Homo sapiens: one gene and its partner. The protein of the gene in region 1 interacts with the protein of each later gene in a biochemical or structural test. Each region holds a gene or a part of one and is shown on either strand. Other genes may lie near its edges.

Region 1 (7,026 bases):
AGCCAAGCTCATTTCCCAGCCGTCCCCCCAACCCCACAACAGGCTCACACACACATCTGGCCAGCAGCTTCCAAGCCTCGTGGGTGGCACCAGGTCCCAGACACCCTCAGCAGAGCAAAGTCGACAAGTCAGTCTATTCCGTCTTCCCCTCACCCCAAAAAGTTCCCACACCCCATGGTGGCACAAGACCCAGGAACACCCCTACACACATACTGCATTGGCTCCCGCACCCAATTCTGACGGTTCCCCTCACTCCACGGGGGACACCAGCTGAACCGGCCCGGCCCCCGGCCGGCTCCCTCTGGTGGGAGTGGGCCCCCTGGCTGATTCTCCCCAAACCACAGGGCAGCTCAGATAACAGGAGGGAAAAAGAGAGGGGGCTAGTCCGTTGAGCATCCGATCTCTCCCCAAACAGGTTTGAATTCAAGTCTTTTTGTTTTGCTTATCATTAAAGAGAAAAAGAACAGAAGTTCCCAGCGGCGGTTCTGCAACAGCTCGAGCGCGGGGGACACGCGCAGCAGACGGCCCCAGACGCCTCAAGGCTGCGCGCGAAGACACGGCGCAGGCAGACTCACAGACGGGGCTCCCCCACCCTGGACACGGCGGCAGCGAGTTGGGAAGCCCAGGAAACCCCGGGTTCCCGTCGGAAGCCTCCCGGTACCCAGTCCCCTCCCGCAGCACCAATCTGGGGCAGGACATGGGGCCCCGACGCCTGCGGGAACCAGGGGCTCCCCAAAATCCCCAGGGGAGGAATTACCTCGCAGCGGGGGAAGCAACCCGTTCGGGGTGCCAGCGAGCACAGCGTCTGCCCTAACCCGGCGCCCTGGTGCTGCTCGGCATCAGGGTGCGGGGTCCCGGGAGAGGAGCCGTCCAGGGGGCCGCGGCTCAGGGGCGCGGGGCGATGGCAGCGGCCATAGCGAGTCACGTGCGGAGGCTGAAACTTTACCCGGAGCCCCAGACTGAAGGGGCGGAGGGTACGGAGCAGAGGTAGGGGGAGGCCCTGTCCCTCAGGCCCGCCCCTGCCCGCCCACCGACCAATCACCAGTCAGGGGCGGATCTACAGGCTCACGCCCGCCCCCGCCTCTCCTTAATAGACCTCGGGAAGGGCGAGTCTTAAAGGAGCCACTCCTAGTTGAAGACTGGACCGTGGGAATCCGGGAGAATCCCTCCCTCAGACCCAGAACCGAAGATTCAGAGCAAGAACGGGGTGAGGTTCTGCGGAAAGAATGAAAATAGCGCTCGGTGGAGAAGACCGCAGCGTGTGGTATCCTACACTCCTTTCCCCCCAACCACACACACACCCACACCTAAATCTGAGAAGTGAGGCGGCGGCGTAATATGGAAGTGAGTGCGGTGACTCCTGCCCTAGCTGTCAAGCCCCTGAATCCTATAATTATAATCCTCTTCTAGGGACCAGCTGGAACTGAGAGCTGTGTGACCTTGACCAAGTCACTTCCCTTCCCTGGATCTTAATTATCTCAGCTGCAAGAAAAAGAAAAAAAAAAAAAGAGTCCAGGAGTAGATCTCCCGCAAGTATATCTCTTCTTTCCCCAAACACCTCTGCAGCTCCAGTGGGTCCTAGGAACCCTGGCTCAACCCAACCCTCCCAGCCCCCTTAAAGTACTCTTCTCCTCAAAGGGCAAGACTTTTGGATCTTCCAGTAGGGGCGCCCAGGAGCACCCCTCCGTGCTCAAAGACTCACACTCAAGCTTCTCTCTCCCGAACAAGTCTGGAGAAGCCAGGAAAGCTCTTTTTCATGTTCCAGCTGGACAGGATCTGAATCACCCTCCATCTGAGAGACCCCCAGTCCCCAATACAGTCATGACCCCCCTCCCAGCCTGCAGCTCTGTTTGGGAGGATCCTGTCCCCATCGCTAGCAGTCCACTGGCGGGCTTAGGGGGAAGCAGAATTGCTTAGAATACTCCCCTCTCGCCCTGTTCCCAGGCAGAGAAGTGGCCACAAGTGCCCCCACAGAACTTCCCACTGGAAGGGGAAGTGCTGCACTCCCAGGCCTCCAGCCCAGTGAGGAGACTCTCAGCCTGACCCGGTGGCAGAGCTCTCAAACCCACTGGTCCGACGGACCCCGCTTTACAAACAAGGAAAGAGAGTCCAAGAGCAGGCACTGGGTTTTGTGCACAGTCGCACCGGTTGCAGAGCCGGGTCTAGAATTGAAGTATCTGATTGTCCCTGGCTTTAGCCCAAGAGCCATGGTAAGGTAGGACAAGCCAGGATGGCGGGACCCTTTGCCCTGAGGGCCGGCGCACGGGAAACTGCCCCAGCAGTGCTGGGCCGCGCTTCCCCAGGCCCCTTCCCGCCTGCTGGGCCGGAGCTGTCTCCCGCTCCCGTCTGGATTTCCGTCCGCCGGTGCGAACCTCCCGCCCAGCCCCTCCCGCCCTGTCCTGTCCAGATTCATCCGCAAACATGCGCTCAGCCGGCAGGAATGCGCCAATGGCTCCCAGATGTGGACGCCACCGCTTAACCCCTTACCCCCCAGCCGCGCTCCCCCAAGGGCCTTCCAGCCTGAGCCCCGCCAACAGCAGGGAGCTCTGCCCAGGTGAGAACCAGCCCAGGACTGGAGTCAGCGCCAGCCCGCCCCTAGTGCCCACGGACACCTCCCAACCTAGATCCTACCTGTCTTCCTTCCTTGAGGCTGGAGGGGAAGGCTCATGGACACAAGAATGCAAGCATGCATGCACACAGCTACACTGCCTCCCAAGTGGGACGACCTTCAGGTACACCTGCCATCATAGGGTCAGGCATCCTGGTACAAATGCATTTCCACGTGCACATTCAGGGCAGGGATGTGTACATCCCCGACGCATGTATGCACATCCACGCATGAACAAGTACATCCAAACACATTTGTGCACAGACAAGGGCATGAAGCAGAGGGTGGGGCACACTTCTGCACAGACACAGAAGTAGCCCCATGTGTGGATGAGGGAAGAAATTCATACACACAAACCCACCCCCCGCAGGGGTCAGACACTCAAACAAGACCAGCACCCGTGTGTACAAACACAAAGCATGCACATCTTTGGGGCATTTCCTTCCTGTCCAGGGAAACCAGTACCACCTGTCCAAGGCCCAGCCCTACCCAAGCTTGACTGCAGAAGGCAGGAGAGGTCCCCAGGTGGGGGACCAGGAGTCTTCAATCTGCAGCAGCAGTTGAACTCCAGCTATGCTGGGCTCATAACAGGGCTTCCACCACCCCCTCCCACCAGGGACTCTGATGCAGGAGGAGAGAAGGGTACCCAGGGAGCAGCAGGAAACTAGCAGAGAGAGAAAAGCCACAGGCTCGGGGCGCCTCACTCTAAGAAGGACACTCCTTGGGGCCTACTGTTTCCCTGCACACAGGAGATAGGCTGGGGGAGGAGTCTGAGCCCCATCCCTCTTCAAACTAGAGGAAGTGAAGGAAGAGAGTCTGGACAGGTACCAGGGCCAGTGGCAGTTCTCAGTAGTCAAAAGAGATAAAATATAGCTCTGAGACACCCTAGGAGGGCCCACACTTCTAGTACAACAAGGCTGTCTTCTCACAGCCTGTGGAAACTCCTGAAGAACAGCATTAAGTGATACTCCGAAGAGATGATGAGAAGCAATTGGCCCTCCAAGACCATGGTGCGGGAGTTTGTTGGAACCAGCTCCAGCTGACTCCTCTTCCCCTCCCAAGCCTCCTAGCTCATCCCAAAAGGAGCTCCTCCCACAAGTACCTTAATAGTCCCACTCCATTTGATTCTCACAGTCCTGAAGGGGCAGGCTCCTGTTGCCATTGTAGAGATGAAAAAACTGAGGCTCAAAAAGAAAATTGCCTTCCTCAACGTCATACAGCTTGTCAATGGCAGGGCTGGGATTCAAACCCAGGCCAGGTATGGTGGCTCACACCTTTAATTCTAGCACTTTGGGAGGCCAAGATGGGACGCCAGGAGTTGCTTGACTCCAGGAGTTCAAGACCTGTCTGGGCAACATAGCAAGACCCTGTGTCTTTTTTGTTAAAATAAATAAATATATACGTGTGTGTGTGTGTGTGTGTGTGTATATATATATATATATATATATATATATATATATATATACACATATAAGCATATATATATATATATATATACATATAACCCAATCAATGTTCCCTCCTCAACTCTTTCCTCCCCTACTTACTCCAAATCAAACATGTATGACTCCACTCTGTGCCCTGCTACCTTTTCCTTCACCCCTTAGTGGATCACAAGGGAGAAGCGCCATCCTTGCCTGGCTCTGCAGGTTTATGGGTGGGGCCAGGACATGCCAGAGAGAGATCAGAGAAGACACTGGGGGCTGCACACATAGCCCTCCACCCCCACCACAAGCCTGGTGCCCACCTGCCTAGCAGGCATGGCTGGGTGACTCAGCTGCATCCGGGGGAGATGCCAGGGCAGTGACTCACCTACCGAGAAGAGCTGAGCCTGGCACCTTGCCAGCCCCAGGACAGAAGTGACTTAGTCACCACCAAGACTGTGATGCCCAGCAGGCACAGCCCAAGGATTGCAGACAGGGGCAGACTGTCCCTCCATGGTTACATGCGCCCCCTGGCAAAGAATGGGCCTCAGCATTCTGGGGCCAGCAATGTCTGTGCCAGCCCCTGCCCCCTCACCACTGCCCACCCCCACCACACCAGGCCCCGCTCCAGTGCCAACAAGTTTTGTGAGACCCCTGTGCTGCCCTGCCCCCACTGCAGCCTGCCCATCACTCACCACCCACTCTCCCACCTGCCCCACCTCCTCCTGCCACCCAAGTTGTACCCAGGCTGTGAGTCTCCTTTAACATGTCCTGGCAGCACTCCCTGCCCCCACAGCCCCTCTCACCCTCTCCCCTCATATACACATGCACTCAAACACACTTCTGCCAGCCTTGCTTCTGCCAGCAGCTGCTGAAGTTGTTGAGCAGGAGGGAAATTGGGAGGGTGGGGTGCAGGGATTGAGTTACCAGAGCTGATGGGGTGGGCTGTCACCCAATCCCTTCCCCAGCTCGTCCCCACCCCCACCCCACCCCTCCACCCGCCATATCCCTCACCCACCTGCCTCCCTCCCTACCTCTGGCTGGCAGCCTACTGCCCTTTAAGCCCGTCCACCCAAGCTAGAAAATAAATGTTCAAGAGTATTTGTCATGTTAAGACCAGCCTAGTATATGAGAGAGAATGAGACAGAGACCAACAGAAAGAATAATTCCTGTGCTCAGTGCTCTGGCTACAACCACTAAATATGTGTATGTTGAGCCAGAAGGGGACTGAGCAACTCCGCAAGTCCCAGAAGAGTTGGTGGGGCCCAAGGAGAGTTGACAGGCTAAACAGCCTCAATCCATTTGCACTATTGATTTCTCACACACTGCAGTAGGCTTGATGGGGGGTATGATAAATCAGCCCCCAAGAGACACAGAAACTGCGTAGAGAGAAGGGGAGGGGCTTCTGAACCACAATTGGTGGTGCACCATGACTTGCTTGGTGCGTTGGGGGTGGGCAGCAGAGGAATAGGAGATGTTGAGTGGCATGAGGCAGGGTAGGGGAGAGGGTGTTGGATTAAGGCCTGTCTGGAACACCTCCTTCCAGGTGGGTCTGAACTAATTTGAAGGAAGAAGGTGGGAGACAGATGCACCACGTGTGGCTACACAGGCAGGGCCTTGAACAACCCCAGGGGGTGCCATTCACATCATAGTCTATGGAATGGTTCCCCCTGCAGCTGTGCAGCATGGTGGCCTGTGGGGAGAGCCTGAGGCAGAAGACAGAAAGCAGACTGAATTCTGAGGGACCACAATTCTCCATTGAGTTTTCTCCCCATACACACCCCAACTTGCCCCAACTTTCCCTGCCTCCAGGCCTCAGAGGGGGCCTCCTTCTGACTAGCGATCAGAAGCCAGTAGTAATCTCCCCACTCCTCAGCCCTGCTCCCTTCTTTTGTTGGGGAGATGGGCAAACAACCACCATGACCCACAGGTCCTGGGCAGGGCAGGAGGAGGGCTCACAAAGGGCTCTGGGGAGTCTGGACGTCCCTTCTGTAAGGTGTCTCCTAGCCCCACAGCTCACCAGCCTGTGAGCCTGCTGGAGCCTGTCCAGCAGCTCCATTCACACCAGTGGCCACAGGCCACCCAAACAAACCCAACTCTGACCTCCTTCTAGCCTGGACACAGACTCTTTCCACATGGAGACTTATAAACAAACCAAGCTGGGATTTTCAGAGACCCTGCACAAAAAAGCAGATGGGAAAATGGACCAGGTGTGCCTGGCTCGTGGTCCTCCTTGCTGCAGTAGGGAAGGGAAGCACACTGAGCTGTGGTGAGGAACCATGACAACAGAAAAATGGTGCAAAGGGAGGGCCTGGGTTCAGGTCTCAACACAGCCAATGACTGATTGAGTGTTCTCTCTAGGCCTCAGTTTCCTTCTCTGCAAGGGGAAGGGATTGCCTAGGTAGCCTCTAAAACCCCTTCCAGCTCTGAGTCCAGCTGGATAAAGAAAACCCTGTAGGGTGCCAGGACTCTTCCACCCAGTCCAGCCCGGCCCATCTACCTGGGTCATGCCCCTCTGGGTAAGGTCCTGCCCCTGCTCCCCATGCCTCCTTGCTGTCTTCTGCCCCTCTGGCCCTTCCTCACTCCTCTGCCTGCCTGCTTACCCTCACCTTGGCCAGCCCCTCTGCCTGCCCCGTGCTTTTCTGCACGTCCCTCCTGCCAGGGGACTGACCAACTAAAAATAGTCCCTGCAGCCTTTCTCGCCCACAGCTGCCCAAAGAGCAGGAAATGAGGGGGGCAGGGAGGCCCATGCCCTGCCTTACCCCCACTAACTCCCAGGTCAGAATCATGTCCAGCACTCCAGCCTGGGGCTAGCGCCAACTTGGCCATCCTGGGGGCATCCCACACCCCTTTCCTAGGGGGAGGCCTGCCCATAAGTGCCTGCAATCACAGAGCTGCCCCTACCCTGCGGGAGGAGGAGAAAGGAGGCAAGCGGTCTAGAGGGAAACCTTCCCAATTTCTGACAAATCAGTGCCAACCACATTGTGGGCACCC
Region 2 (7,026 bases), on another chromosome or scaffold:
TCGAGCTAAACCTACATTTAAGAAAGAGTAATAAAAACGAAATAATTATCCAGTTTTTGGTAAATTAGTGAGTGACAGTGGCATTGGCCAGGAATTGATTTTTTTCTCATCAGTGTTATAATGAAACTACACTGAACGTAAAGATGTTATTTGAGGACCTGCTGTAGTTTTCTAATTTTGAGCATTTTGCCTGTTACTAAGTTTCTTATTGTAAGTAATAAAATGAACTTCTTTTATAACCTTTTCCTTCTTTTAAATTTCCTAGACTTGACTCTTAGGAATGTAATTACTGGGTTAGAATTTAATATAAGCATTTTATGACTCTTATTACTATTGTGTTTTTCAAAGGAATTATACCAGGCTACAGATTTCCATCTCTTAATGAGTGTTAAAATATTTGTAGTTGATGAGAATTATGCTTTTTTGGAGGATAGGAGGAATGTGTTAAGATTACTAGGAGCCTGAGGAAATGGAAAATAAATACGAATCTGGACAATAAAAGTAGGGAATTGCATGTGATATAGCTCTTTCTGCCTACAAATGATTCTGTTTTGAAGCCAGTGAAAATATTCTCTGATTAGAGAGCCTGCCTAACAAGTCAATCTTGCTAGACAAGTAGGACTGGAAATTATTTCAAAATTGTTTCAAAGCTGCCAGTAGTTTAACAAGAAAATGCACTGACAGTATTGATAATTAAATTTGTTTGCCTTTATTTACTTTGTTAAAATGAGTTTCATAAAACTCTGTTGTTACAACTGATCGTCAAGTTTTGTTATTCTACTTATACATGAAGAGGCTTTCCAGAGAGAAGTAAATTAATTTGTGTAGGACTTGCCCCAGGGAATGAATTACGAGGTGATAGGAAACTAATACTTTAAGAGTGTTTACCTTGTGCAAGGTACCAGGTTAGGCACTTTCATATGTTATCTTATTTAATCCGTAAAACAGCAAAATACGGTTGGTAGTATTCTCATTTTTCAGAAAACGGACGTTCTGAAACTTGTACCCCATATTAACAGTCTAAAAGTACAAGAGCCAGGCTTTGTACCCAGGTTGCTTGATTTCAAGGCATGCCATCTTTGTACCGCACCCTACAGAAGAGGCCAAAGTACTGTACTGATGTACATGATCAAATATGATAGCACTTTGCCCATTTCACACTTGAGGAATGTTTGCATGGAAACCGCCAGGGGCCCCACATTTTAGGAAACTGTTTATAACTGATAACTTGGGAGAAAGATCCCACAGCCTTGAGGATTTGGTATTTTGGGGGGTATATTGCAGTGACTCTTTTCAATTAAATGTTTGTCTTGTACAGGTGGCAGTTTTCAAAGAACGGGAGCAAAAAGAGATTGAAGCCATGCATTCTCTCAGAGCAGCCAACCTAGCCAAGATGACAATGGTGGACCGCATAGAAGAAGTAAAATTTTGCATTTGCCGCAAGACAGCCAGTGGGTTTATGCTACAGTGTGAGCTCTGCAAAGACTGGTTCCATAACAGCTGTGTTCCTCTTCCTAAATCAAGTTCCCAAAAAAAAGGATCCAGCTGGCAAGCTAAAGAAGTAAAATTCCTTTGCCCTCTTTGTATGCGGTCTCGAAGGCCCAGGCTAGAGACTATTCTGTCACTCCTGGTATCCCTTCAGAAGTTGCCCGTACGGTTGCCTGAAGGAGAGGCCCTGCAGTGTTTGACAGAACGTGCTATGAGTTGGCAAGATAGAGCGCGGCAGGCTCTAGCCACAGATGAACTATCCTCTGCCCTGGCCAAACTATCTGTGTTGAGCCAGCGTATGGTGGAACAGGCGGCTCGAGAAAAAACTGAAAAGATCATCAGTGCAGAACTCCAAAAAGCAGCTGCCAATCCAGACTTACAGGCAAGTTTAGGATTTACATTCTTTTTCTATTTCATGGGATATGTCAGTGTATAAATAGTAAATTGAGTCTGTCTTACCAATTGATTAGGAAAATAACAGTAACTTGTCAGCAATTATCCATTGCATTCTCCTTCAACATACACTATAGCACTTTTTTTGGATACGTACTTAGTGAAATATTCTTGGTAATATCATTCAGGTGGACTTTGGCATCATAATCAAATAATTTGATTTCTACTAACTGTTGAAGAACTCTGTTAGCCACTTTGCTTATTCATTACATTTTGGTGATCTTAAGCACACATTAATTACCCTGTCTGTTTAGCATGTCTTGCTGTTCATCTTGGAATTATTTGTTGTTTAGGGACACTTACCTAGTTTCCAGCAGTCTGCTTTTAACCGGGTGGTGAGCAGTGTGTCATCTTCTCCTCGACAAACAATGGACTATGATGATGAAGAAACAGACTCTGATGAAGACATTCGAGAGACATATGGCTACGACATGAAGGTAGTTACATGGACAAGCTGTGTGGGTACATACCTGATCATTGGGTTTGTTTAAAAAAAAAAAAAGCTATTGAACAGTGATGTTTGAGGCCTGAAAGTGAAAGAGAAAACTAATCATTTATCTGTTCTGAGTTTTTAGTCGTAGCATTTTTTCAAAACTCAAAACATTACAGGTTGCTGAAACAATTTTTTTTTTTTTTTTTGGAGATGGAGTCTCGCTCTGTCACCCAGGCTGGAATGCAATGGCGCGATCTCTGTTCAGTGCAACCTCTGCCTTCTGGGTTCAAGCAATTCTTGTGCCTCAGCCTCCCAAGTTGCTGGAATTACAGGTGCATGCCACTCTGCCTGGCTAATTTTTGTGTTTTTAGTAGAGATGGGGTTTCGTCATGTTGGCCAGGCTGGTCTTGAACTCCTGACCTGAAGTGACCTGCCTGCCTCGGCCTCCCAAAGTGCTGGGATAACAGGCCTGAGCCACCACGCCAGGCCTGAAACAATTTTTAAAAAATAGAATTAAAAAATCTGTATTTGTTTTACTCATCTTATAATCCCTTATGGCTTAGAGGAACTAGAAAAACAATATGTAAAGCTTTCTTGGCCAATTTCAGTTTTTCAGATTTTTTTCTTTGAGTTGTGAAAGTCTGTATACAGTTAAGTTTTAAGAATTCCATTCTAGGCTTGGTGTGGTGGCTCATGCCTGTAAACCTAACAATTTAGGGGAGACTGAGGTGGAAGGATCACTTGAGCCCAGGAGTTTGAGACCAGCCTGTGCAACATATTGAGACCCCCATCTCTACAAAAAATACAAAAATTAGTTGGGTGTGGTAGCACACACCTGTAGTCCCAGCTACTTGGGAGGCTGAAGTGGGAGGATTGCTTTGAGCCTAGGAGGTCGAGGCTGCAGTGAGCCATGATTGCACCACTGCCCTCCAGCCTGGGCAGCACAAGACCTTGTCTCAAAAAAAAAAAAAAAAAAAAAACACTTCCATTGCTAGAGTCTTTTGCTCTGCTTTCTCGTCTGGATGGTGCTAGATAGAATGTCACATTCGGAGATGGGTAATATAATACTTGGGCCCAGGTTAGAATTTGCTGAGTTCCAGTTGCAGATACAACAAATTATTTACCATCAATGTGATTATTTTGGTAATGACACGTTACTGGTGGTGAAGAGAAGGTTTTGACAAGTTTGTTTTGTGTTGGATCCAGTTGGCTTTTCGTTAGCCCTTTTTGTCAGGTGCAAGCCCTTTGCTTTTTAACCTAGTAATAACAATGTGATTAGGCAGAGACCCTGCCAGATTACAGTCAATCCATTGACTTGTTTTATATGATTCTTAGTTGCTTTGTTTAGAATCTATTCTTGTAACCTGGGAATTCCTACTCTGATACAAAAGGCTGCTTCCAGAGAACAAGGGGAGATTCTGTTCCTACCCCTTCACTATCTTTTATTTGTCTTTTCAGCTTGCAGATCAGCATGGTACTGCTCATTAATCTCATCAGCATTAAAACTCCTAGGATATAAAATTAAAACCATCCATCATAGACGCTCGTAGATTCCTCTGCTGGGAAATATTTTTTCTCAAGATAGAAATGGGAATTTTCAGTTATGTGACTTAAAGACTTGAAAACAGTTGAAACTTGAATTAGACTGTTCAAATAATCTTTTTTTATATTAAAATATCTTATTATATGGTAGATTATTATTTTTCAGTTTTGAAAGTTTTGTGAACAGATGGCCAAGTTTTGTTGCACTGATTTTCAAGGGCTGATTGAGGGCCATTATTAAGAAAAGAGGCATTACAGTTGCGTACAGTTCTTGAATATCATCTTAGTGTACTGCTAAATCCCATTATGAAGAATTCATTGGCAGTCTGCTGAAAGGTACACTAGCTTATACCACACACAGCGGTACATTCTTAAGCACGTTGTTATCCAGAAGTTAATGACTATCTTTGTTTACGAAGTTGTATATAGGGTGACTAAGAGCAGCTGAAAAGAAATGCAACCCATGCCAAGTATAATTAGCTTTTTCCTTGAATACTGGAATCACCCGTTTACCCTAGTTAGAGGCCTTTGATATTTTTGGTGGTTGCTTTCTAGCACATTAGCTATCAGCCACTCTTCTAGAATTGCTTAACATGATGGGCTTTGCTTGAAAGCAGACTGGTAACCTATGAAAACATCACAAGTATTGATGATTTTCAGGACTAGGGATCACAACTGCAGTTTCATATGGTTGGATGGAGTAGTCTTTTTGTGGAGGAATTTATATGAGAATCTTAGCTTACTGTCTCTTTGGTAGTGGGTATTGGCAGGGTAGAAAAATAAGATTATGGATTTTCTAGTGTTAGCAATGTATTTGACAGCTGAGAAGAATGGTGGCAAGACTTATGGTAATTCAAGTTCAAATTTACTTTGCAGTCAGATGCTCTACCACTGAGCTATATACCCCTGCCAATTTACTTTGATGTTGATATCTTTGAATGAAAAAAAAAAAAAAAAAAAAGCCTATACTCTTGAGCATTTTCCCACAGAGCAAGCGATAATTGTATAATGAAAATTTTATTTGCCGGTTTATTTGCATTTGACCTGGTGGTTTTTTCCTTTGTGTGATGTCCTCTGTTGTGACCATAAATTCATAACTTAAAATACTTTGAACTTAGTATTCTTGCTTGAGGAAGAGCCCCCTCTTGGTTTAGGAGGAGGGGTAGGTAATTATTTAGTAAAATAAAATCAGTCATTTTATCTTAGTTACCATCCAGAAAATCATTACTTACGAGGTACATATTTAATGAAGCAAAGTCTGTCCTGCATCTTTTGGGATTGTGTCTATGTAGGTGAGCTTGTGGAAACTAATTTCAAGGAGAATCATAGACCTAATCAGAGCTCACTTAACATTGCAAGGACTTTAAGTGTAACAATGAGATTAATGGGCAGTACCAAGCTGATCTGCAAGCTGAACTTATTTTTCCCCCTCATCACTGTTATAATGAAATGAAAACAACTTTATTCAAAGACCTGCTACTATACTTCCTTTTGCTTAAAGGCAGTTTCTAAGAACCTACCAATGACATTACATGAAGACTTACTGTAATCTATATATTGTCAGTCAGACATATACTTGTATTAAGAGCAATTGGTAAGATTCTAGGTTTGAAAACCTGTAGAGAGGATTAAATGGTTTGTGTCCTTAGGCTGTCACATCTAAATTTATCTTCCCCTCCTTAACTTGTTGGTATAGGAGTTATTATAGGTTGTAGACTATAGAAGGTAGATTACTTAACCATAATTTTTTTTGTATTATACTTTAAGTTCTGGGGTACATGTGCAGAACGTACAGGTTTGCTACATAGGTATACACGTGCCATGGTGGTTTGCTGCACCCATCAACCACATTAGGTATTTCTCCTAATGCTATGCCTCCCCTAGGCCTGCACCCCTGGACAGGCCCTGCTGTGTGATGTTCCCCTCCCTGTGTCCATATGTTCTCGTTGTTCAACTCCCACTTATGAGTGAGAACATGCAGTGTTTGGTTTCCTGTTCTTGTGTTAGTTTGCTGAGAATGATGGTTTCCAGCTTCATCCATGTCTCTGCAAAGGACACGAACTCATCTTTTTTTATGGCTACGTAGTATTCCATGGTATATATGTGCTGCATTTTCTTCATCTATTCTATCATTGGTGGGCATTTGGGCTGGTTCCAAGTCTTTGCTGTTGTGAACAGCACTGCAGTAAACATATGTGTGCATGTGTCTATAGTAGAATGATTTATAATCCTTTGGGTATATACCCAGTAATGGGATTGCTGGGTCAAATGGTAATTCTAGTTCTAGATTCTTGAGGAATTGCCAGAGTCTTCCACAATGGTTGAACTAATTGACACTCCCACCAACAGTGTAAAAGCATTCGTGTTTCTCCACATCCTCTGTAGCATCTGTTGTTTCCTGACTTTTTAATGATTGCCATTTTAGCTGGTGTGAGATGGTATCTCATTGTGGTTTTGATTTGCAATTCTCTAGCGACAGTGATGATGAGCATTTTTTCATATGTTTGTTGGCTGCATAAATGTCTTCTTTTGAGAAGTGTCTGTTCATATTCTTCGCCTACTTTTTGATGGGGTGGTTTTTTTCTTGTAAATTTGTTTAAGTTCTTTGTAGATTCTGGATATTAGCCCTTTGTCAGATGGATAGATGGCAAAAATTTTCTCCCATTCCGTAGGTTGCCTGTTCACTCTGCTGATAGTTTCTTTTGCTGTGCAGAAGCTCTTTAGTTTAATTAGATCCCATTTGTCTATTTTGCCTTTTTTGCCATTGCTTTTGTTGTTGTAGTCATGAAGTCTTTGCCCATGCCCATGTCCTGAATGGTGTTGCCTAGGTTTTCTTCTAGGGTTTTTGTGGTTTTAGGTCTTACCTTTAAGTCTTTAATCCATCTTGAGTTAATTTTTGTGTGAGGTGTAAGGAAGGGATCCAGTTTCAGCTTTCTGCATATGGCTAAGCCAGTTTTCCCAACACCATTTATTAAATAGGGAGTCCTTTCCCCATTTCTTTTTGTCAGGTTTGTCAAAGATCAGATGGTTGTAGATGTATGGTGTTATTTCTGAGGCCTCTGTTCTGTTCTATTGGTCTGTATATCTGTTTTGGTACCAGTACCATGCTG

Evidence for each region. Proteins that work in one complex are often made in the same cells at the same time.
Region 2: the proteins of RARA (region 1) and KDM5A form a complex in vitro, tested with the Homo sapiens proteins (one study listed by BioGRID).

What each region holds. Positions count from the first base shown.
Region 1 is NC_000017.11:40,312,180-40,319,205, reverse strand, and holds part of RARA (retinoic acid receptor alpha), read right to left. Parts: intron 4,014-7,026; exon of another isoform or gene 455-4,013; intron 1-454. UniProt on the Homo sapiens protein: Receptor for retinoic acid. Retinoic acid receptors bind as heterodimers to their target response elements in response to their ligands, all-trans or 9-cis retinoic acid, and regulate gene expression in various biological processes.
Region 2 is NC_000012.12:302,298-309,323, reverse strand, and holds part of KDM5A (lysine-specific demethylase 5A), read left to right. Parts: intron 1-1,318; coding exon 1,319-1,870; intron 1,871-2,234; coding exon 2,235-2,378; intron 2,379-7,026. UniProt on the Homo sapiens protein: Histone demethylase that specifically demethylates 'Lys-4' of histone H3, thereby playing a central role in histone code. Does not demethylate histone H3 'Lys-9', H3 'Lys-27', H3 'Lys-36', H3 'Lys-79' or H4 'Lys-20'.